4 separate regions of the Homo sapiens genome follow, and regions 1, 2 and 4 are each linked to region 3. The links come from fine-mapping of genetic effects on gene expression. A gene starts in region 3. Each other region holds a variant in brackets. All regions are shown on one strand. Distances are from middle to middle.

Region 1 (6,144 bases), 56 kb before region 3:
TCTCAAAAAAAAAAAAAAAAAAAAGAAAAAGAAAAAGAAATTAGCCTAAACTTTTATCAGAGTCGGCTGAGATCCTTATTTCCACTCATTTTTATTCTACACAGAAAAAAACATTCTTGCAGACAACTGTATGTTTTTATAAAGAGTCATCCTCATATCAAACTATCTCCATTTCACAATATGGTATAAAATATAAAACCCTCTACCACACACATAAACATTTTAAACGGCCACTTCAGGCCAGGTGTGGTGGCTCACACCTGTAATCCCAGCACTTTGGGAGGCCCCGGGGCAGGCAGATTGCTTGAGGCCAGGAGTTCGAGACCAGCCTGGCCAACGCAGTGAAACCTGTCTCTACTAAAATTACAAAAATTAGCCAGGCATAGCGGCACACACTTGTAATCCCAGCTACGTTGGGAGACTGAGGCACAAGAATTGCATGAACCCAGGAGGCAAAGGTTGCAATGAGCCAAGATTGCGCCAATGCACTCCAGCCTGGGCAACAGAGTGAGACTCTGTCTCAAAATAAATAAATAAATAAAAAATAAAAAATAAATGGCCACTTCAAATATACCACTGCCATAAATTCAAACTACAAGCCAACAAAAGTATACTCATCTTGATAACATTATAGAAATTATTTAAACTACACAGAACAGTAAATAACAAAAGCTAATTTTTTAAATATTGTCAAAAGTTATCAGAATTCAACCAAAAAGTGCTTAAAAATACTACCTTGGGCTTGGAGTGGAGGTTAAATTCTGAAATGGGACCCAACATAATGAATGCCTATTAAATGTGATCTCTAATAATCCTGTGAAGTAGATCTCTTTATTTTAAAGATGAGGGCCTGAACTCCCAATCACCCAGCTGCAAGTAGAACGGCCAGAACACAGACCTACATCTAACTTCAAAGCCCACGTTATTTCCCAAAGGTGTCAGAATTACACGCAGATTCTAACAGTCTTGGATTATCCTAAACTTGTTGCTGACAATGACACTTCATGCAGGGATGAAAAACATAAGAATTACTAAATGAAGTGGGAAGGAATAGAGGAAAATGGAATAGAAAAGATTCACAAACAATAACCCTGTAGTAAGTAAAGCAACTAAAAGGAACTTAAACACTAATTTAATTTTAATGCTTACCCCTGGGATTGCCCATTCTCCACAGTCTTTCCTTTTTATTGCAACAAATTGTAAGATATGCTTCCCAGAAACAGGATGCATGATTTTATTTCCACTGCTATCCCTTTTCCATCTGTGAATAGTAATATAAAATCATAACGGATTTACAACAAAAACTAAGGTTCTATCTCAAACTTGAGATAAAGTTACAAGGACTTTTTCTTTAAAGCAGAGTATATATAAATTTATCTCAAATCAGCTAGTTTTATTTAAAACTATTGATTTTTACTGGAAATATTCTATATTCATCACTGTTACAAACCAGGACAAATGTCTACATTACATAAAAGACACTACATTATCTGTAATGAAAATTCAGGATATAAACAATTTTTACTACTTAAAGTATTAACAAAAAAAGAAGTAGCAGAATAGAATTTAAAGAAAAGGTTATCAAAGTTTTTTAAAAAATAAGTTTACGAATCCCCTTTTAAAAATTACTGGTAGTTGCCAGGCGCAGTGTCTCGCACTTGTAATCCCAACACTTTGGGAGAATTGCTTGAGCTCAGGAGTTCAAGACCAGGATGGGCAACAACGGAAGACCTCATCTCTACAAAAAATAAAAAATTAGCTGGGTGCAGTGGCATGCACCTATAGTCCTAGCTACTTGGGAGACTGAGGCAGAAGGGTCACTGTACCCAGGAGTTTAAGGTTGCACTGAGATAAGATGGTGCCACTACACTCCAGCTTGGGCGACAGAGAGAGGGCCTATCTAAAAATAAGAAAAAAAAAATTACTGGTAGTGAAAAAGGCATGGTAAGATTTGCTTTGGGCCAGGCGTGGTGACTCACACCTGAAATCCCAGCACTTTGGGAGGCCAAGGTGGGTGGATCACCTGAGGTCAGCAGTTCAAGACCAGCCTGGCCAACATGGTGAAGCCCTGTTTCTACAAAAATACAAAAATTAGCTAGGCATGATGATGGGTGCCTGTAGTCCTAGCTACTCAGGAGGCTGAGGCAGGAGAATCACTTGAACCCAGGAGGCAGAGGCTGCAGTGAGCAAAGATCGTGCCATTACACTCCAGCCTGGATGACAGAGTGAGACTCCATCTCAAAAAAAAAAAAAAAAAAAAAAAATTTGCTTTTAACAGTTCACCCTGTGCTAAGAGAAAAGCAGATTATATGACCCAGTTTAGCTGGTGTCAAAAGCAGTACTTCTCAATCTTTTTTTTTTTTTTTTTAAAAAGACAGGGTCTTGCTCTGTCACCAAGGCTAGAGTACAGTGGTGCAATCATAGTTCACTGTAACCTTAAACTCCTGGGCTCAAGCAATCCTCCTGTCTCAGCCTCCTGTGTAGCTAGGACTACAGGCGTGGGCCACCATGCCCAGCTAATTTTTTTTGTTTTACAAATGGGGTCTCCTGCTATGTTACCCAGCTGGTCTTGAACTCCTGGCCTCAAGCCATCCTCCCACCTCGGCATCCCAAAGTGCTGCAATTACAGGTGTAAGCCACCCGGCCCTGCTTCTCAATCTTTATGCCCTCTGATTTGATAAACAAAAAAAACTCTATCCTTTTATTTTATATTTTAAATTGAATTGCTTATGGGTTTTGTAGAAAGTATCAAGGCAATGTTAGTTTCAGAATACACTTTTTCTAACCACACTCTCTTTGCCAGAGATGTTGATATTAATAAATCTCCCCTTCCCCTTCCTCACCTCCATATCAACCTCTAGCCCAATTTTAGGAATTGTCCTAATGATCTCTCAGGCAAAA[C/A]AAAACAAAACAAAAAAAAAAAAAACTTCCAATGCTAAACCAAAAAAGAAGGTCTATGATATAAGTATTACTCTGGATGAAACCCAATAAAATATTAGTATGCATATGAGTTTCCAAATTTCCTTATATAGTAGCTGACTACCATATCTACCATATCTAGTTCCTCCCATGAAAGAGCTCATAGTCTAGCAGTGGCTCTAAATTAGCAGAAGGGTGATAGTTTGATGAGTATATTAAACAGAAATGAAATAATAATTAGTACAAGAGGGCACATCTGTTTTTAAAATGCCAGAAAGGGGAATACATAAGCAAGAAACAAAGTCATAAAATAAAATAATGTGTTCAAGAAACTGAATGTTCATATGGGGTCTAGCACCATGGGCATCAGTGAGGGAAAAGATAGACCAGAAAAGTGGGCAACAGGCTTATACGACAAGATTCATCTAATTCGTTTACTTAGAGAGCCAGAGAGTGTTTTTAAGCAGGGTAAAACCATAACCAGTTTGTATTTTAGAAAGCTCACTCACTTTGACAAAAGCATGTATGTTGGTCTGGAGGAAAGCAAGACTGGACTCAAGAAGATCAGCTGGGAGGCTACTACTATGATCCAGGTAAAAGATGATGACAGGACAGAAGACAGTATGGATTTTATTTTTATTTTCTAAAAGCCATTTAGATAGCATTTATTATATATATATAAAACACTGTTCTAAGTGCTTTAATGTATTTATCCATTTAAGCCTCAAAACAACCCTATAACATAGTTGTTTTATTATCTTTATTTTACAGATATGGAAAATGAGGCACAGAAAAGTTAGGTAACTTCCCCAAGACTACAGTGTTAACAAGGGCGTAAACACAACTTTGAACCTGGACAATCTGGTTCCAGAATCTGTGTTCTTAATTACTATACTATCTACTTAAACTGAACAAGCAGAATGTTTACACTAATTAGATAAGAGGAAAGACGGCCAGGAGCAGTGGCCCACGCCTGTAATCCCAGCACTTTGAGAGGCCGAGGCAGGCAGATCACGAAGTCAAGAGATCAAGACCATCCTGGCCAACATGGTGAAACCCTGTCTCTACTAAATACAAAAAATTAGCTGGGCGGGGTGGTGTGCACCTATAGTCCCAGCTACTTGGGAGGCTGAAGCAGGAGAATCACTTGGAGGTTGCAGTGAGCCGAGATAGCACCACTACACTCCAGCCTGGGCGACAGAGCTAGAATCTGTCTTAAAAAAAAAAAAAAAAAAAGGAAAGATAAGAAGGCAAATGGTGGCTATGTTCACTCATAAACATTTACTGGCACCTACTACACATCACATGCAAGGAGCTGGGAAAACAAAGACTCAATACAGCTACTGCTCTTCAGCCAGCCAGTTGTGACTATGAAACAAGGATGAGAAACAGAATAGAGAGAGATGCTGGCCACTGGCCAGGTGTAGTGTGGTGGCTCCTGCCTGTAATCTTAGCACTTTGGGAAGCCGAGGTGGGAGGACTGCTTGAGATCAGGAGTTCAAGACCAGCCAGGGTAACATAGCAAGACCCATCTCAAAAAAAAAAAAAAAGAGAGAGATGCTACTGGGGAGAAGGCAGGATCAGAGAGATGATCAGCAGCTTGCATATGTTCTCAGATTTTATTCTGAAGGACAAATGTATGGATTTTAAGCAGAGTAGCTTCTTGCTATATTATTTATTAGTATTAAATACATTATCACCAATTTTAAAACAAAATTTCTTGATCTAACAGAACTAATACATCATTTTAATTGACGAACCTAATAAACATTTACTGAATATCAGTAATATTTCTATGCCCTATTGCTATTCCCTCCCCAGTTCTAACAGTATGTACCTTCCTGTCTTTAACCAAAAGTGAACAGAAAATGAAATTGTCATCAATTGTTTGACCTGAATTTATTCACAATAATATATTAACACTTCCCAACTCATTTTGACTCTAGAGGATCTGAAGAAACTTTTGATAATTGTACCTGGACAATCTCTAGGAGAGATGCCTGGGAATCCGAAAATTTAACACCTGCCCCGGAGCTTCTGAAAAAGTTTATGAAATCCTGAACAACGCTGTTTTGAATCATGAAGTGCATACTTGAAAGAAAGGGGGGTGAAATCTTGGCTCTGAAAGTGCCTGGGTGATTCTCCAGTAGAATGAATATACTCTAAAACAATGATAAAAAGTACAGTATAGTAAAGACTCACTAGTGGTGTAACAGAAAAAGTACAGTATTTAAAGCCACTTACCCCTGATTCAGATGTCAGATCTACAACATTTAGGCAAGTAACTTAACCCCAGTGAGTCTCTATTTTCAAATCCTCAAAATAGATATATCAATACCTACTTGGAGGGGCTTCTGTGAAAAACAAATAGAAAAACTAATGATAGCACTGACAGGATGCCTGGAATAGACTAGTCTAAAAGTAGAATACTTTTAACAATTCATCTAAGGCTTGAATCTTCCTTCAACATCTTTCATTCTTCTCTGTTCCATTTCTGCTGCCTCTCATCTATTTAGAGGAACTCATCAATTTATTAATTAATGCATTACTATTAATTATTAATTAATGCATTATTGAGATAACAAAGAACATCAACTTAAGAGTACAGTTGAAAGCCAGACTCTGCCACCTGTGGGCTCTCTTATAGCCTCGGACCATCTCTAAGCCTTCAGTTCTCTTATCTGTATGACAAAGTTAAGCTAAAAAAGTCTACCATTTCAAAACAACTTGATACACAATCACCATGTATACTCCCAGCCACTATTGGGTCCACCATAGATAAAGATAAGCTAACTAGATTCTAACCTTCAAAACTCTGGCTTCCCTTTTCTGCTCTTGTCCCCTTACTAGCATTACATTCCTGTTTCAAACATTTCATACCTTCCTGTTTTTAGCCAGCTTCACCAAAATCAGAAACTAACACTGCCATTAATATTTTTTTTATTAACTCTTTCCATCTCATTTAAACCATAGAGGTTCTAACAGTATGTGGATGGAGAGGTAGGCTGATCAGTAGTTAAGTAAGTAGGTAGGTGAATGGGTGAGTAAGTGGATGGATGGATGGAGGGAAGATAAAATTTGGGGTTGGGTAAAGATCCTTTTTGGCAGGAGAATCAAGAGGGCAAGTAAGAAAATAAGACCGGGTGAGAATGGGTGCCTCTTCCAGTAACTTGAAAATAAAAAAATATATAAAGAGTTAAACTATCAAATTATTATTATATCTCA
Region 2 (6,144 bases), 130 kb before region 3:
ATTTTTCTACCGAGAAGGGCATAAACAACTTGTTAGAAGATCTGAAGTGCACATAGTCCTCACTTATCCCTCTAGAATGATCTTCAGTGGAGAAGGAGACCCCCATAAATAAATCCAGTAGAACTTCCCAGTAGGCCTGGCTTCCTGAGAGATGTCCAACCAGGCCAGGGTCTGTTTCTTACGGGGCTCACAGGGCATCTTCTGCCAAAGGCTGAGTTAGCGATGATAGCATTACCTAGGGCTAGCCTGGCTTTTGTCTTAGTCATCAAAAGATGGATAGAACTTTGAAAAACAGAGTGCATGGTCTTGATGATTGTTCCAAAGGTGGGGAGGCAATCTAATAAAGTGAATAAGGCCATGACCTGTGGTTTATATCTGACCATATGGACCCTGTTTATATAAGACCGTGGTTTATATCCAAGCTTTACCACAAAATAGCTCTGTGACTTTGGGCAAACAACTTCATCTCTTTGTGCCTCAGTCTCTTCATTCATGGAAATGGGATTATAAAATCAGTAGCTACCTCAGAGATTTGTTGTAAGAATTAAGTGAAGAAAAGAGCCATGTTTGGTACATTAAAGCAATCAATCAATCGTAGATAATATGAAAGTACTGGACTAACTATATGTCCCTATTGAAACTCCGTAGAACGGGAACTGACTCTAGATATTTTCTCAGGGTTTCTTCCTTGTACTTATACGTTTTGCTCTATAATAAAATATGAATGCCAGGTGTATGCCTCTGAGGCAGCACAGCAGAGTGGACAGAGCATGGGCTTCAGAGTCCAATGCATCTGGGCTAGAATCCTGACTCTGCTTCTTACAATCAGTGTAAGCTTTGGCAGTTACTTCCCACCTGCATGACTCAGTTTACTCATCTGTTTAGCAAAATGGGGATAATAATACACACAAATGAGGTCGTTGTAGGAATGAAATGTGATGTTTATTAAATGCCAAGTATAGCACCTGGCAGAGAAGTAAACACATAGGAAAGTTGACTGGTTGCTCATAAGGAATCTCGTATATCAGTGAGGCCTCTGTTACATACTTGCAATGATTTCTCTGGTAGTAACAATGGAGATCAAGAAGGAAATATTCTTTGAATTGCCTTTTTTATCCAAAGAAATGTAAAAGTAAATCGGACACTACTATTTTCCCCTGGTGGGGGGCCTCAACACGAGGTATTTATTACTATGAGACTTCACTGCTGCATCAGTTAGTAGCTTCTTAATGGCCAAGTCAAAGGAAACCAAAGAAAGTGTTCTATGCCAGCTTGCCATTACACAGAGTGAGAAGAAATGCTGCTTTGCTGTCAATTCTGTTTTATTGGCCCACTTGGACAAGAGGGAAAGCCCCCAACATTTCTTCTTTCTTATCTCTTCTAAAGGCAAGAATAGGGCTTTTGACTTGCTCCAGGGGATATTTTTTCCTCTCTAACTGAAATTCAAGTGAAAGAGTCTTTTTTTTGTTTTTTTGTCTTTGTTTGGTGTTTTTGTAAACCTCTCCCCTATGTTCCTAGCATTGAAATGTAAGCTGCTTTTTCTGGCTGCATGTAGCAGGAGCAGGCTGTCGTCATAGCAATGAAAGGGTGTAGAGAGACTCCTGCTTCATGACCTGCTCTGGGAAATAACTCTTAGTCTGCTTTAAAATCCTTCTTTAGAAATGAAGTCTCCAGTCCTGGCTTGTTTCCTTCCTATTACACAACCAACTTATGTACACCCATTGCAGTAGCTAAATGTTTCCTTTAAAGATTTAGTGAATAGGTATTTTAAAAATCAACAAGAGAGCTGCTAAAACAGTGGCTAGTTTACTGTGGCATACAGGGGAAAAACAACTGGGAAGGCAAAGAAAGAGAAATAGAAATGGCCTCACATGATACACATACTGCAGCAAACCCTGCAATAAATCCATTTTTCAAGTTCCCACTGCTTCCTCCCATCTTCACGATGTGCTATGGTGTAGTGGTTATAGAGGGGAATTCTGGGGCAGACTGCCTGGACTTGAATCCTGGCACTCATACCTTCTAGTTGTTTTAATCTAATCCATTCTGTGCCTCTGTCTTCTCATCTGTGAAATAGATATAATAACAGTCATAAAATTGTCATGGGAATTGAATGAGATTGAGCATGTAAGGCATTTATTACAGTATCTAACCCATGGTAAAGGTTGGCTGCTAAGCTCAGGAGCCTCAGTTTCCCCCACTTGTGAAATGTGGATAACAGCTAATTCATAAGATCATTGTATTTTTTTTTTTTTTGAGACAGAGTCTTGCTCTATTGCCCAGGCTAGAGTGCAGTGACATGACCTCAGCTCACTGCAACCTCCACCACCTGAGTTCAAGTGATTCTTGTGCCTCAGCCTCCTGAGTAGCTGGGACTACAGGCATGTACTACCATGCCTGGCTGATTTTTGTTGTTTTAGTAGAGATGGGGTTTTGTCATGTTGGCCAGGCTGGTCTCAAACTCCAGGCCTCAAGTGATCTGCTTGCCTCAGGCTCCCAAGGTGCTGGGATTACAGGTGTGAGCCACCATGCCAAGATGATCATTGTATGATTAACTAAAATAATGAATGTACATGCTCAATAAGTAGTAGTTATTACAATTCTTTTTCATGGTTTTGTTATTGAAACAGCAAGGTTCCAGTCTAGGTCCTGCTGCTCACTTCGTAGAAAGCCAATCACTGAGACAACAAGTATTGCCAATGAAGAAGGCTTTAATCAGGTGCTGCAGCTGAGGAGATGGGAGCACAGTCTCAAATCCATCTCACTAACTGACTTAAACTAGGGGTTTACATAGCAAGGGAAAAATGTAACAATGTGTAAGAAAATAAGAACTAGGTAGGGGTAAGGAAACAATCATGGTGAATAAGCGGTCAGGCATCTGCTGCAGTGATCTGGTGAGTTTCCATTCTTTTATACTTTTTTAGAAGCCTGAAGGTCCTGTCCTGAGGAAGGAACTTAGATAAAACAAATATAAGTTTCACACTTTAAGACCAGGAGGGTCAACTTCTATGTTTTTCAAAAAGATCTGTCTGTGGGACTATTGGGTAAGTTTCAGTTTGATCTAACTCTGACATGAATGGCCTTTTTGAACTTAGAATTCCCAGTGAGTCAAATATAATGAATAGAGGCCTCAGAATTATCATTGCATAAATGTGAACCATTTGATTTCTACAGGGGGAAAAAAA[AG/G]AATTGTGACTTTTTACATTTATAAAGACTCATCTCATCTTGATTAACACCAGGGTAAAAAGTATTAAAACATCTTATCTTTCATTAACTTTTTATTACGTTTCTGTTTCAGTTCCTCCAGTGTTTTCTAGGTCATGCAATTATGAAAATAAGTTAGCATTTTTATCTTACATCTCAAACAACTAATGTATTCAGTGTTCTATCCCATGCAAAATTCCAGAAATGCAGCAAGGAGCAAAACTAGAGAGGGGCTGAGCTCTTGTGGTGCTTACTATGTAGTTATGAAAATGGTCATTAATCAAACCATCACAATAATGAAAACTGCATAGGACCAAACATAAGGTGCCCCCAAATACAATGCCATCTTCATCTTTCTAGTGAGAACATCCTCAACCAAAGTGTTTGGCCAAACAGCATGTACAAATGGGTAATATATTGTAATGTACACTTGGGATATTTAATCTATGGTTCACATACATATTTAATATGTTACTTTAATTTAAATATTTTATACTTATTAACATGACTTTTTCCTTTCTCACATTTCATGAAACAATTTTGTTAAAACTCTTCATACGCATCTTTAACACCAATGTGTATGTTCACTGGATCCACGCTGTAATTATCTAATACAGAGCACATCATCAATCCTTCTGCAAGTTGCTAAACATCTGCTGATGCTGCAAATTTAATCCCCAGGCATTAGTCCTCACTCGTGGTCATGTTCTCCACACTTTCATTACTGACTAGATTGTTTTTCCAGTGCTTTTTAAAGGGCGTATTTAAAAACCACTTGAAACTGTAAGTGTGGCTTTCTAAAACTATGTGATTCCAACTTGCAATAATGAAGTCATACCTCAGGAATAATGACTAAACCTGCTTTAAATATCTTTATCTATTTTTTCATCCATTTTGTCAAGGTGACCTTCCTAAGAATAAAAATAAGCATTGCTTGAGATTTTTTTTTTTTTTGAGACAGAGTCTCATTCTGTCACCCAGGCTGGAGTGCAGTGGTGTGACCTTGGGTCCCTGCAACCTCTACCTCCTGGGCTGGAGCAATTCTTCTGCCTCAGCCTCCTGAGTGGCTAGGATTACAGGTGTGCACCACCACGCCTGGCTAATTTTTTGTACTTTTAGTAGAGACAGGGTTTTGCCATGTTGGCTAGGCTGGTCTTGAACTCCTGACCTCAGGTGATCACCCACCTCGGCCTCCCAGAGTGCTGGGATTACAGGCATGAGCCACTGTGCCCAGCTCTTGAGATGATTTCTAATTGTTTTTTTGAATAGTACTTTGCTGCTCAAAATGAAGAAACTTTGGAAGCACTTGAATATAAGTCAAATCCCTCTTTTTTACGGCAGGATTTGGTGGCGTGAGAAAAAACACATTTTATTTGAACACATGCCATATATAATGATACACTGAAATAAGTGTTATGAAGGCAAAACACCTTTGTTCCAAGAGAGTATATAAGGATCCTGACCTCCACTCAGGATCAATAATGGCTTTCCTTGATCTGAAGTCTGAATAGAGGTTAACTCTGTGTGTGTGCGTGTGTGTGTGTGTGTGTGTGTGTGTGTGTGTGTGTGTGTGTTTGGTGGTGGTGGCTGGGAGGAGCGGGTGCTGGAGAGAGAATTCTGACAGCGTGAACACTTGTGCAAAGACCCTGGAGCAAGAGGGATCGTGGCCTATTTGAGGCACTGAGAGGCAGCCAGCTCCCGAGAGCAAGGGCAGAGCAGTGGAAGATGTAAATCTCCATAATACTCCCTTCCCTGAGCACTAAATGTATGTGCCCTTTGCTTGATTCAGGTTTAATGTATACTTTTAACGTCTGGATGGATTTCTGGTTAGTCTCAAAGCCCCAACAGGCATGACCATGTCTATCCCTAGCTCAGACTCTTATGGTGGTAGGTTCAATTAGGAAGGATGATGGGCAGTTGAAGGTCAGATGCCCAGAAAAGTCTTAAGTCATTGACTCTGAGTATATCATATACACTCACAGGGCTGGGACACCTTGATGTCAGATGGTGACTCAGCAGAGAACTCAAAATAGAAGAACGTCTTTTTCACCCTTCAGATGACTTTAGGGCCAAACCATAGAGCTCTCCCCAGAGACTCATTAATACTTTAAAAGCTCTAAAGCATCAGTGTTAACACTGGATCAGGTAACAGCACGTATATGTTAGCCAAAATATGACTAAGAGATTTGCTCTCTGATAACAAGGCCTTTGACTATTATGTAAAAACAAGGTGAACAGGAACGTTCTGAGTCTGTTTATAAAGTACCTATAATAATTGTTTTGTTTACTACATTTCCCAGAAAGGAAATTTTTCCATAGTTGTAATAATTGCTAAAAATAGCAGTCTACAGGCTTCCTCTGATATAAACAAATTCAACAGAAGATACCTGGCCTTATTTGGATGCATGGATGTACATACTCCAGGAAATGATAGGCCAAGAGTAATAAGAAAAAGAAAGTAACAAGACAAACCTCTCCTTTTTCTAGTACACATGGTATGTCTTTCTTAGTTCATTAAACTTTAGACAAAGTGATAAACAGATCAAGTTGTCATCATCTGCCTTGAAACCCAAAAATATTGAAACAAGTTCCCTAGGCCCAGAAGGGAAGGAAGAGGACTTGTAAATTTTGCTGAGGCTGCCACAGAAGGAGCTAACCACTGGAGGGTTCAGACTGGAGGGTTCAGAAACCAGGGGAATGCTAGGCAACACAAGGAAAATTCAATTAGAAAGACTTGAAGCAATAACTACCAGCACTAAAATTTCCAGGGAGTCACTGATGTGGCCAATATGAAAGAGGAATCCTGTTCCTCCTTTCAGAGGTATGGATGACTGCGTTTACAGTCTGGTTCAGTGTTCAGACAGCTTATTAATGCTTAAGAGAAAAGGAAAGAGAAGGAAGATAGAAAGAAGAAGTACAGCAAGGCAAGAAGTGCCCAGG
Region 3 (4,000 bases):
ATTTCAATTTTACAAATTTAGAAACATGTTTAGAGAGATGAAGTCACATACACATAAGGGATTCAGGTACGACTGCGTCCAAATGCTGTGTTCTTTCCCTTAACCAATGAAACCTTGATCAACTGTAGGTTAAAACTACCCAGTTTTTTTTAATTAATAGAATGGAATAAGAAATAGCATAGCCAGACCGTGTGCCATGGCTCACGCCTGTAATCCCAGCACTTGGGAAGACCAAGGTGGGTGGAACAGGAGATCGAGATTGAGACCATCCTAGCCAACATGGGGAAACCCTGTCTACTAAAAATACAAAAATTAGCTGGGTGTGGTGGTGCGTGCCTGTAGTCCCAGCTACTTGGGAGGCTGAGGCAGGAGAATCGCTTGAACCTGGGAGGTGGAGGTTGAGGTTGCTGTGAGCCAAGATTTCGCCACTGCACTCCAGCCTGGAGACAGAGGGAGACTCCTTTAAAAAAAAAAAAAATAGCATAGCTAGAGCCTCAATATATGAAACTCAACATAGTTGAAACACTTCTTATAGTAGATCACCATGTCAGATGTAATTTATTCCTGTAGGTGTTGGACCAAAAAATTGACAAACACTGAACATATGTGTAGCCCCAGTTACACTTTTACTCACTGTGTAGATTTTAAAGTTGATCTAACAGATTTATTCATTTACAGTATAGGTATAAATATATCCTGACTCTACTTTTCTCTATTTCCTAGGAGGCTTTTGAAAATCAAATGAAATAATATATGTGGAAGAACACTTTGTAAACTTTCTATACAAGTGTTTTGTAAATTTGGATTTGGAGGCTATCCAAAAAAAAGTTGTAGATATTCTGAATTCAAAGAATTCTATAATGGGGTTCACTTTTGTGAGGCTGCCACTATCCCTTCATCCCCTATAACAACGTATGGCTGCTTAAGTAAGAGGGACAATCGAGTTTGAACTATTTGTGAACTTTGATTTTTTTGTGTGATCTTTCTGGCTCTTAAATATGAAAGTTGACTATTGTCACACAACAAAGTCCCTTCCCAAGCACTGGAGTGTCTTGCGCAAAACCCAAATCCAATGTCTGTCAAAAATGAGTTGGAAAAAAATGCATGCAATACCATTATTAAGCTCTTACTGGACACAAGCCCTAGTTAGGTCTTTTCTTCCAGTAACCAATCTCTAGAATTTTTTCAAGTCACTAGTTAGCATATACTGAATACCCATTTATATAGGCTACAAAACCAAATGTTACATAGGTAATCTTTAGGCTAAATGATTTGCTATTTATTCACTTGAATAAAGATAAAATTCCTAAAGTACAACATATATTTTTTATTTTCAAACTCTAATAGGTCAAGTGAAAAATGATTATTCAAATATACTCTTCTTTCTTGTGGAAACAATCCCTTTAATACGATAACAATTTTTTCTGGCGCTTGATTGAAGCTGTCCTTGAACAGACAAAATTTCCCCTGTCTTCCAGAAATCGTGCTTAGTTCAAACTAAAATGTGATGTAGCGCAATTTCTCAGCTGGAAGCAGAACGATTGGTCTTTTCAGGATCCTTTAAGATAGGAATCTACATTTGCATCCTCTATCTAGTTTTTGTTTTTTAGGACAAAGTCTGGCCTTTTCGTCCAGGCTGGAGTGCAGTGGCGCGATCTTCACTCACTGTAGCCTCCACCTCCTGGACTCAAGCAATTCCCGTGCCTCAGTCTCTCGAGTAGCTGGAACTACAGGCACACGCCACTACGCCTGGCTAATTAAAAAAAAAAAAAAAGAGACCGGGGGTCTCCCTATGTTGTTCAGGCTGATCTCGAACTCCTGGGGTCAAGCGATCCTCCCGCCAGGGCTTCTCAAAGTGCCAGGATCACAGGCGAGAGCCGCCGCGCCCAGCGGCACCCCCTATCTAGTGATAAGCAACCTTCAACTATGAAAGAAGCATCTGGCCTGTGGACACTGTCGGTTATCCTTGGAACTTATCCAATTTAGGAAAACAAGTGAGCAACTAACCCTCCAAGGCCGGCTCACGACACCGGGAGAAAGTGGTGTAAAAGACAATCGCGGCCACACACCGCGTGGGGGCTGCGCAAAGCAGAACTAGGAAGCTTTGCTCCGGTCTGGACTTCGTCCCTCCCAGATCTCTGAGCTAGCAAGCACTGCAGCCCGAGCCAATTGCGAAAGACCAACAAAGCCCAGCCCAGCGGAAGGAACGGTTTCGGAGTTGTTTTTCTTTGATACGGGAGTTCCTCCTTGCTCTCGCCCCTACTCTTTCTGGTGTTAGATCGAGCTACCCTCTAAAAGCAGTTTAGAGTGGTAAAAAAAAAAAAAAACACACCAAACGCTCGCAGCCACAAAAGGGATGAAATTTCTTCTGGACATCCTCCTGCTTCTCCCGTTACTGATCGTCTGCTCCCTAGAGTCCTTCGTGAAGCTTTTTATTCCTAAGAGGAGAAAATCAGTCACCGGCGAAATCGTGCTGATTACAGGAGCTGGGCATGGAATTGGGAGACTGACTGCCTATGAATTTGCTAAACTTAAAAGCAAGCTGGTTCTCTGGGATATAAATAAGGTAACAGTGTTTACTATGTTTTACTTTCTGGTACCTTTAATTTGTGGATGTGTCTGCATTTTGCTGGCAACCACCCTTTACCTCATCTCTGCAAAGCAGGGAGGAAAAAAAAATTAGTATTGCCATTTTGCAGATGGGAGGGCATGAATTAATATGTTGTATGATCACATGATAAACAGACCTAGAGGTTATAATAGTCCCAGTTACTGCCCCATTTGTAAATTGATCCCCATTTTTGCCCTAAGGATAACTCATAATTTTTTCCTGAACCTGATTTCATTGATCCCTCTATTTTAAAAATAGGGAAAAAACAATCGTTTTAGCTATATATTAAAAGAGTAAGAAGCTTGTACCTATTAAGAGAAAGTCCTACTTACTGTTAATGAGAAAAGTGGTTTGAAAGATTATACTCGCCGTTGGCTCACGCCTGTAATCCCAGCACTTTGGGAGTCCAAGGCAGGCGGATCGCGAGGTCAGGAGATCGAGACCATCCTAACACACTGAAACCCCGTCTCTACTAAAAATACCAAAAAAAAATTAGCCGGGCGTGGTGGCGGGCGTCTGTAGTCCCAGCTATTGGGGAGGCTGAGGCAGGAGAATGGCGGGAACCCCGCGGGGCGGAGGTTGCAGTGAGCCAAGATGGCGCCACTGCACTTCAGCCTGGGCGACAGAGCTAGACTCCGTCTCAAAAAACAAACAAAAAGATTATACTCAACAGAAACCAATGCTACATTGCCATAGTTATTGCCAAGAGTAATTTTAAAAAGCATCTTTTCCGGGAGGCTGAGGTGGGGGGTTGCTTGAGCCTGGGAGGTGGAGACTGCAGTGAGCTGTAAACGCCCCACTGCACTCCAGCCTGGGTGACAGAGTGAGACCCTGTCTCAAATTTTTTTAAAAAACATTTTTTACCACGTTTGACCTGTGATACTGAAGGAGTGGCGGGAAAGCATCTTTTAGTAAAAACAATAAAAGGGAAAAAAACTTTCAGTGTAATTTTTTACCTAGGACAAGTGTAGGTGTGGCTTAGGGAGGAGAAGAGGACCTAGAATCCAACCTTTTATTTGACCTTTGGTAGATGAACAAAGGGGTTTCTAGAAGATACCTGATGGCCTGAAACATTATCCATTACACACTAGTTGACATGCAATGCTGTAAACAATAATTCAAAGGATGTGAAGTTAAATGAGGGTTAACCCAGTGAGTGGCTGATGAAGACAGCAATCAACAAATAATGACTGTCTGCTGCTTAGACATTAGGGATAGGGTGACAAACAGAAAATAAGGTTCCATGACCTCAGTCTAGTAGGGAAAATGGACATTAAGTAATTACAAGTGCAGGCTGGATGCGGTGGCTCACACTTGTAATCCCAGCACTTTTGGAGGCCGAGGCGGGCAGATGACCTGAGGTCAGGAGTTCAAGACCAGCCTGGCTAA
Region 4 (6,144 bases), 63 kb before region 3:
TAGGCACTGAAGATACAATAAGCAATCCAGTAATTCCTCTTTGAAGAATTTATTCTGATGAAATAGAGACAAGCCTATTAAAGTATTCAAGGCAACATTACTTAAATATTTTATTTTATTTTATTTATTTTTAGATGGAGTCTCGCTGTTGTTGACCAGGCTGAAGTGCAGTGGCACAATCACGGCTCACTGCAACCTCCGCGTCCTGAGTACAAGCGATTCTCCTGCCTCAGCCCCCCGAGTACCTGGGATTACAGGCATCTGCCACCACGCCCAGCTAATTTTTTTGTATTCTTAGTAGAGACCACACTGCCATACCAAAAACTGGAGAGACAGGCAAATACAGAGAATCACAACTGACCAGGGAGAGAAGCCTACCGCTGGAGTCAGCACCTGGTAGGAACACTTAAAGGGTAACTAACTGCTGAAAGCTGACCTTTGGACTAGCTTGAAAGATAAAATCTCCTAGGGGGTCAGCCATACCAGTATGAAGAGGGGGCCTACATTTTAGTGAGCTTTACCTCCAAGAAAGCCACCAGGTGAAGACTGGAGAAAAATCCTCTCTCCTTTCTAACATGGAGAGGGGAAAGGTAACCAATTTCAAATACACCCAGATCACTCTGCCCTCAAGGAAAACTATTTTACCAAGCCCTAAGCAACCTGAGGGAAAGGAAATACCCAACTCCAGCCCCCGCTGGATTTCCTGTCTTTCCTAAGGATTGGGGAGGAAGGAGGGAAGCTGAGAATAACATATGAAGGGTCACAGCCCAGGGCCACAGGCTCACTAAAAGACTGACATCTAACCATATATTCTCCTATGATTCCCCTTCCTCTAGAATTTACCACCATATCTATCAATAGGACTCCTGTTTAATAAAAGGGGAAGACAGCTGAAAGAAGGGCATGCTTCAGACCTCATTTAATAAGTCTCCAGGGAAACCCAAAACTAGAGGAAATTTTAGCCTCTGACACATACAATGACAGCAAACAAAAAACACAGCCTAACTCCTAGCCAGATAAACATAAAACCTCACGCTAAAGAACTATTTGCCTTAGTTCCCTTACAAGTTATATCATGGTCAATTTTCAAAAAAGCACTACAGCCAGGCGCAGTGGCTCATGACTGTAATCCCAGCACTTTGGGAGGCCAAGGTGGGTGGATTACCTGAAGTAAGGAGTTTGAGACCAGCCTGGCCAACATGGTGAAACCCCATCTCTACTAAAAATACAAAAATTAGCCAGGCATGGTGGTGCATGCCTGTAGTACCAGCTACTTGAGAGTCTGAGGCAGGAGAATCGCCTGAACCCGAGAGGCAGAGGTTGCAGTGAGCCATTATCATGCCACTGCACTCCAGCGTGGGTGACAGAGCAAGACTCCATCTCGGGGTTAAAAAAAAAAAAAAAGAAAAAAGAAAAAAAAGCACTAAAAGCACGCTAAAAGGCAAAAAACATAGCCTAAAGAAACAAAGCAAATATTAAAACCGAACTCAAATATGGCAGAGATTTTGGAATTATCAAAACAAAATTTTTTAAGTTTAAAGAGAGAAAAAGATAGGGTAAAAACAGTGAACAATCCATAAACTCTATAATCAACTTCTGGAGGATCAGTCATTGTTTTTAACTCCAAAACTTTAAAGTAGTTAACAAATTTATCAGTACTAAAGTTGTACAGACCTGCTTCTAATTTACATCTGCATATTTCTTCTAAGTTTTCATACTAGGATAAACTCTTCTAATACACCTTAGTGGAAATACAGGAATAGAAAATGGTCCCAGGAGTTTCCTCCAAGTTCAACAAGCAAAAGCACAGGATATGGAAATGACAGATCTAGTTCTAGCCCATTTTGTAAGTGAAAAAACTGAGTCCAAGAGGACAAATGATTTGTACAAGGTTACACAGCTCAGAAAGAACTATGAGTGGAACATTCATTTCATTTCTCTAGCATGGTGCCCCCACTTTTATGCTACAAATAAAAACAAATCAAATTTAGCAATAAAATATGTTTCAAGGGAGCCATTCAATGTGTACATTAAGACCAAATTAATTTTTAAGACAGCAGATTTTTCCTTTCTCCTTCTGTAATAACAGGTTTGACCCTCCTCATAAAATTTTAAATTCCATACACCAGAAACAGCATTCATTTAAAATTTTTTCAGTACTTGGAATTTTTTGTTATTGCTTTGTGTATTAACAATCCAAGATTATTATAAAAATATTTGAAATAGTAAGATATAAATCCCATTTCCTTTATCATTGCCATACTTCCTACCCAAATCCCAGTTGCTTTTGTTTTGCAAAAAAAGGGAACTATACTCAATAAATAATCTGACATCTTTAAAGCATATCATTTTAGCCCATAATTTCATCCTTAATTTCAAATGTTACCAATGGATTAAAGAAAATTTAGTCACTGGTGATAAAAGTTTTGAAGATTTCTTCTATGTATTCCTTTAATACCAACAATTTTGCTTTCATATAACTACAGTCCTACAATCAACAGTTAATTGGTTTAAGATGCTAAATAGTCCAGATTTAATCATGCCTTAGTGGGCTAATGGCTTAAATTGATCCTTTAATCCCAGCCAGTTTAATAAATATAAAGTTACCTGTTTCGTCATGGTAGTTCACAGCTTCTGTCTCCATCCATGCATTATCAGTGTTTCGAGGATCATCAACATATCCCTTATATATCTATTTTCAAAAGAAGACAAATTTTTTAAAAGTCCAAGGTGTAGTGAGTACAGCAGAGCATGTTACCTTCACTAGCATCAGAAATGTAAATATCCTGTTGCCCAACAACATGAACATACTTAATGCTACTGAGCTGTACCTTCAACAGTTTAGATGGTAAATTTGACATTATGTGTTTCTATCAAAATTTTTTTAAAGAAATGTAAATAGCCGGGCGCGGTGGCTCACGCCTGTAATCGCAGCACTTTGGGAGGCTGAGGCGGGTGGATCACCTGAGGTCAGGAGTTCGAGACCAGCCTGACCAACAAGGTGAAACCCTGTCTCTACTAAAAATACAAAAAAAATTAGCCATGCATGGTGGTAGGTGCCTGTAGTCCCGGCTACTCGGGAGGCTAAGACAGGAGAAATTACTTGAACCCAGGAGGTGGAGGTAGCAGTGAGCCAAGATCGCGCCACTGCACTCCAGCCTGGGCAACACAGCGAGACTCTGTCTCAAAAAAAAAAAAAAAGAAAGAAAGAAAGAAAAAAAGAAAGAAATGTAAATATCATAAAACTTTTAATGTAGTACTTCATGTGCTTGTTTCAAATTTCCCAAAGAACAATATTCTCTTTTGAGGCAGCTTTAAAAATCATGAAACCCTCAGGCCAGGCGTGGTGGCTCATGCCTGTAATACCAGCACTTTGGGAGGCGGAGGTGGGCGGATCATGAGGTCAAGAGATCAAGACCATCCTGGCCAACATGGTGAAACCTCGTCTCTACTAAAAACACAAAAATTAGCTGGGCATGGTGGAGAACACCTGTAGTCCCAGCTACTCAGGAGGCTGAGGCAGGAGAATCGCATGAACCCGTGAGGCAGAGGTTGCAGTGAGCCGAGATCGCATCACTGCACTCCAGCCTGGTGACAGAGCCAGACACTGTCTCAAAACAAATAAATAAATCATGAAACCCTCAACACTTCAAACTCTAATTTCAGAATCTGAGAACAGTCAAATTTGGGCAATATGATTTTTTAAGAGTCCATCACTTAAGTATTTTTCTGTGATTATAGTTTCTGAAATACAAAGGTAGATTCTTCTAGTTAAACAAAGGAGATCTATAAATAAAACTAAAGATTACTACTTAAGCTATTAATATATGAAGATATTTGGATCTATTCATCTAGCACAAACGTAACTCAAAAAAATCTGGACAACATAAATAACTAAATCCCAATTCTGAAAAGAAAACAAGCAATCCAAATAAAAACTGACCAAAAAAAGGCCGGGTGCGGTGGCTCACGCCTGTAATCCCAGGACTTTGGGAGGCCGAGGCAGGCGGATCACCTGAGGTCAAGAGTTCAAGACCTGCCTGGCCAACATGGTGAAACCCCGTCACTACTAAAAATACAAAAATTAGTCAGGCATGGTGGCACATGCTTGTAATCCCAGCTACTCTGGAGGCTGAGGCAGGAGAATCACTTGAACCTGGGAGGCAGAGGTTGCAGTGAGCCGAGATCGCGCCATTGCACTCCAGCCTGGGGACAAGAGCGAGACTTCATCTCAAAAAAAAAAAAAAAAAAAA[C/AC]TCTGTTATTTTCTTATTATTAGTGTGCATATACCTTGTAAGGTATTTTTTTAAAAGCACGGAATGCCAGGCTCACACCTGTAATCCTAGCACTTTGGGAGGTCGAGGTGGGGGGATCCTTCAGCCCAGGAGTTCAAGACCAGCCTGGACAACATGGTAAAACCCCATCTCTATAAAACAAAAAACAAAAAATTAGCCCAGTGCGGTGGTGTTTGCCTGTGGTCCCAGCTACCCAGAAGACTGACGTGGGAGGATCACAGGAGCCCAAGAGGTCAAAACTGCAGTGAGCCATAACACCACTGCACTCCAGCCTGAACAACAGAGCAAGACCCTATCACAGAGGGTATATGGACAAAACAGACATGAGACTTAAATGATTATCAACCAGAAAAATCTCTGTATGACATAATTTAAAATGTAAATGTTCTTTCAGAGAGAGCTGAATTCATGCACATACAAAAAGCTTTCTGTTGGATGGGTACTCAACGTGAAAGAAAATAGTTTACAGGCCAGGCGTGTTGGCTTACACCTGTAATCCCAGCACTTTGGGAGGCCGAGGCGGGCAGGTAACCTGAAGTCAGGAGTTCAAGGCCAGCCTGGCCAACATGGTGAAACCCTGTCTCTACTAAAAATACAAAAATTAGCCGGGCGTGGTGGTGGAAGCCTGTAATCCCAGCTACTCCAGAGGCTGAGGCAGGAGAATTGCTTGAACCTGGGAGGTGAAGGTTGCAGTAAGCCAAGATCGTGCCACTGCACTCCAGCCTGGGTGACAGAGCGAGACTCCATCTCAAAAAAAAAAGAAAGAAAAACTAAGAAGAAAAAAGTTATTATAATAAATGATATAAATGAACTAAATATATATCATTTTAGCCTATATAGCCTAAAGTTGGGCTATAAAACTTTAAATAGAAACCTATTTACAGTGAAGATCTGTAATTTGTTTTTGTGAATATATTTTAAATATACAAGTATTCCACTTTATTTAGAGAAGGACATACAGATTTCCAGGTCAACTTTTAAGTCATTTTCATCAATCCACAGAACTAAATCCCTCCCAGAAACACTATTTCTTACCACTAGGTGGTCTTGGCTGAAGAGTTTGTGCAACTTTTCCTCTATTTCTCTCTTCTCAGCACTGGTTTTCTGTAAGGAGTTGAGAGCTTCCTCACCAAATTCTCTTTTCAGTGTGGCACTAATCTTCTCTCCTGGATCCACCATCCCCTAAGAGTCACATTAAAAATTTTGAAAAAAGGGATCAGCTTTGATTTGTTCAACAAATATTTATTGAGTAGTAGAGTGAACATTTATTATTCAATCTGCCTATAATAGTGATCCCCATTTCTCTGTGATACACTGTTCTCTAAACCATCTGTTGCTAGTAGAAGGAGCCAATAAGGATACCTCATGTATTTGGCCACAGTGATTGGTCCAAGGTTAGCCTATGGCAATCAAACCAATTTCCTGGTACTTGCCAAACTCGAACTAAGGAAAAAGGACTGGAGGTTAGAAATAACACAGCACATTGATTCTTCCCCCATTGTTCATTCCATTCCAGCCACACTGACCTCCTCAATGTTCCCAGGACCTGCCTAACATGCTGCCCGCTGAGAGCCTTTGTACCTGCTATTATCTCTATCCAAGATGCTTTTCTCTAGATATCTGCATGGTTCACTAATTCATTTCCTTCAGATAGTTACCTAACATGCACCTCCTCAGGGAGGTCTTCTCTTAACTGCCCTGTCTAAAATCGCAAACTCTCAAACACTTCCTAGTCCTCTACCTTGCTTTTGTTTCTTAATACTTACTGCCTTCTAACATGCGATATATTTAACTTATGTATCTTATATTATCTGTCTCTCCAACTGGAATGGGAGCACCAAAAGACAGAGGT

Alleles and levels. Positions count from the first base shown, and alleles are read on the strand shown. Sizes are in standard deviations (SD) of each study's normalised expression. Not every link is listed here.
As copies of C replace AC in region 4, the expression in lymphoblastoid cells of the gene that starts at base 2,239 in region 3 goes up (moderate effect, 0.61 SD a copy in CAP).

What was found. PIP is the estimated chance that this variant, and not a neighbour inherited with it, causes the effect.
Region 1: its variant is the best candidate, but not a certain one, in a credible set for the expression of HSD17B11 in whole blood (INTERVAL, PIP 0.54).
Region 2: its variant is the best candidate, but not a certain one, in a credible set for the expression of HSD17B11 in whole blood (TOPMed, PIP 0.51).
Region 4: its variant is the best candidate, but not a certain one, in a credible set for the expression of HSD17B11 in lymphoblastoid cells (CAP, PIP 0.68).

What each region holds. Positions count from the first base shown.
Region 1 is chr4:87,444,259-87,450,402 of GRCh38, reverse strand. It overlaps NUDT9 (nudix hydrolase 9), which reads right to left. Exons shown (of 8, transcript NM_024047.5): 5 at 1,150-1,261. Among named protein-coding and RNA genes, the nearest start is that of SCPPPQ1, 24 kb to the left of the region's middle. The variant C/A (reference allele first, on the strand shown) is at 2,902.
Region 2 is chr4:87,521,275-87,527,418 of GRCh38, reverse strand. All of the region lies in intron 1 of SPARCL1 (SPARC like 1), which reads left to right. LOC124900729 (a long non-coding RNA gene) reads right to left here. Exons shown (of 2, transcript XR_007058171.1): 2 at 924-2,066. Among named protein-coding and RNA genes, the nearest start is that of SPARCL1, 5.0 kb to the left of the region's middle. The variant AG/G (reference allele first, on the strand shown) is at 3,186.
Region 3 is chr4:87,389,427-87,393,426 of GRCh38, reverse strand. HSD17B11 (hydroxysteroid 17-beta dehydrogenase 11) reads left to right here and starts at 2,239. Exons shown (of 7, transcript NM_016245.5): 1 at 2,239-2,566. The coding sequence starts at 2,357. RefSeq lists enhancers at 1,372-1,944, 1,958-2,027.
Region 4 is chr4:87,450,919-87,457,062 of GRCh38, reverse strand. It overlaps NUDT9 (nudix hydrolase 9), which reads right to left. Exons shown (of 8, transcript NM_024047.5): 6 at 5,328-5,474; 7 at 2,608-2,692. Among named protein-coding and RNA genes, the nearest start is that of SCPPPQ1, 17 kb to the left of the region's middle. The variant C/AC (reference allele first, on the strand shown) is at 4,254.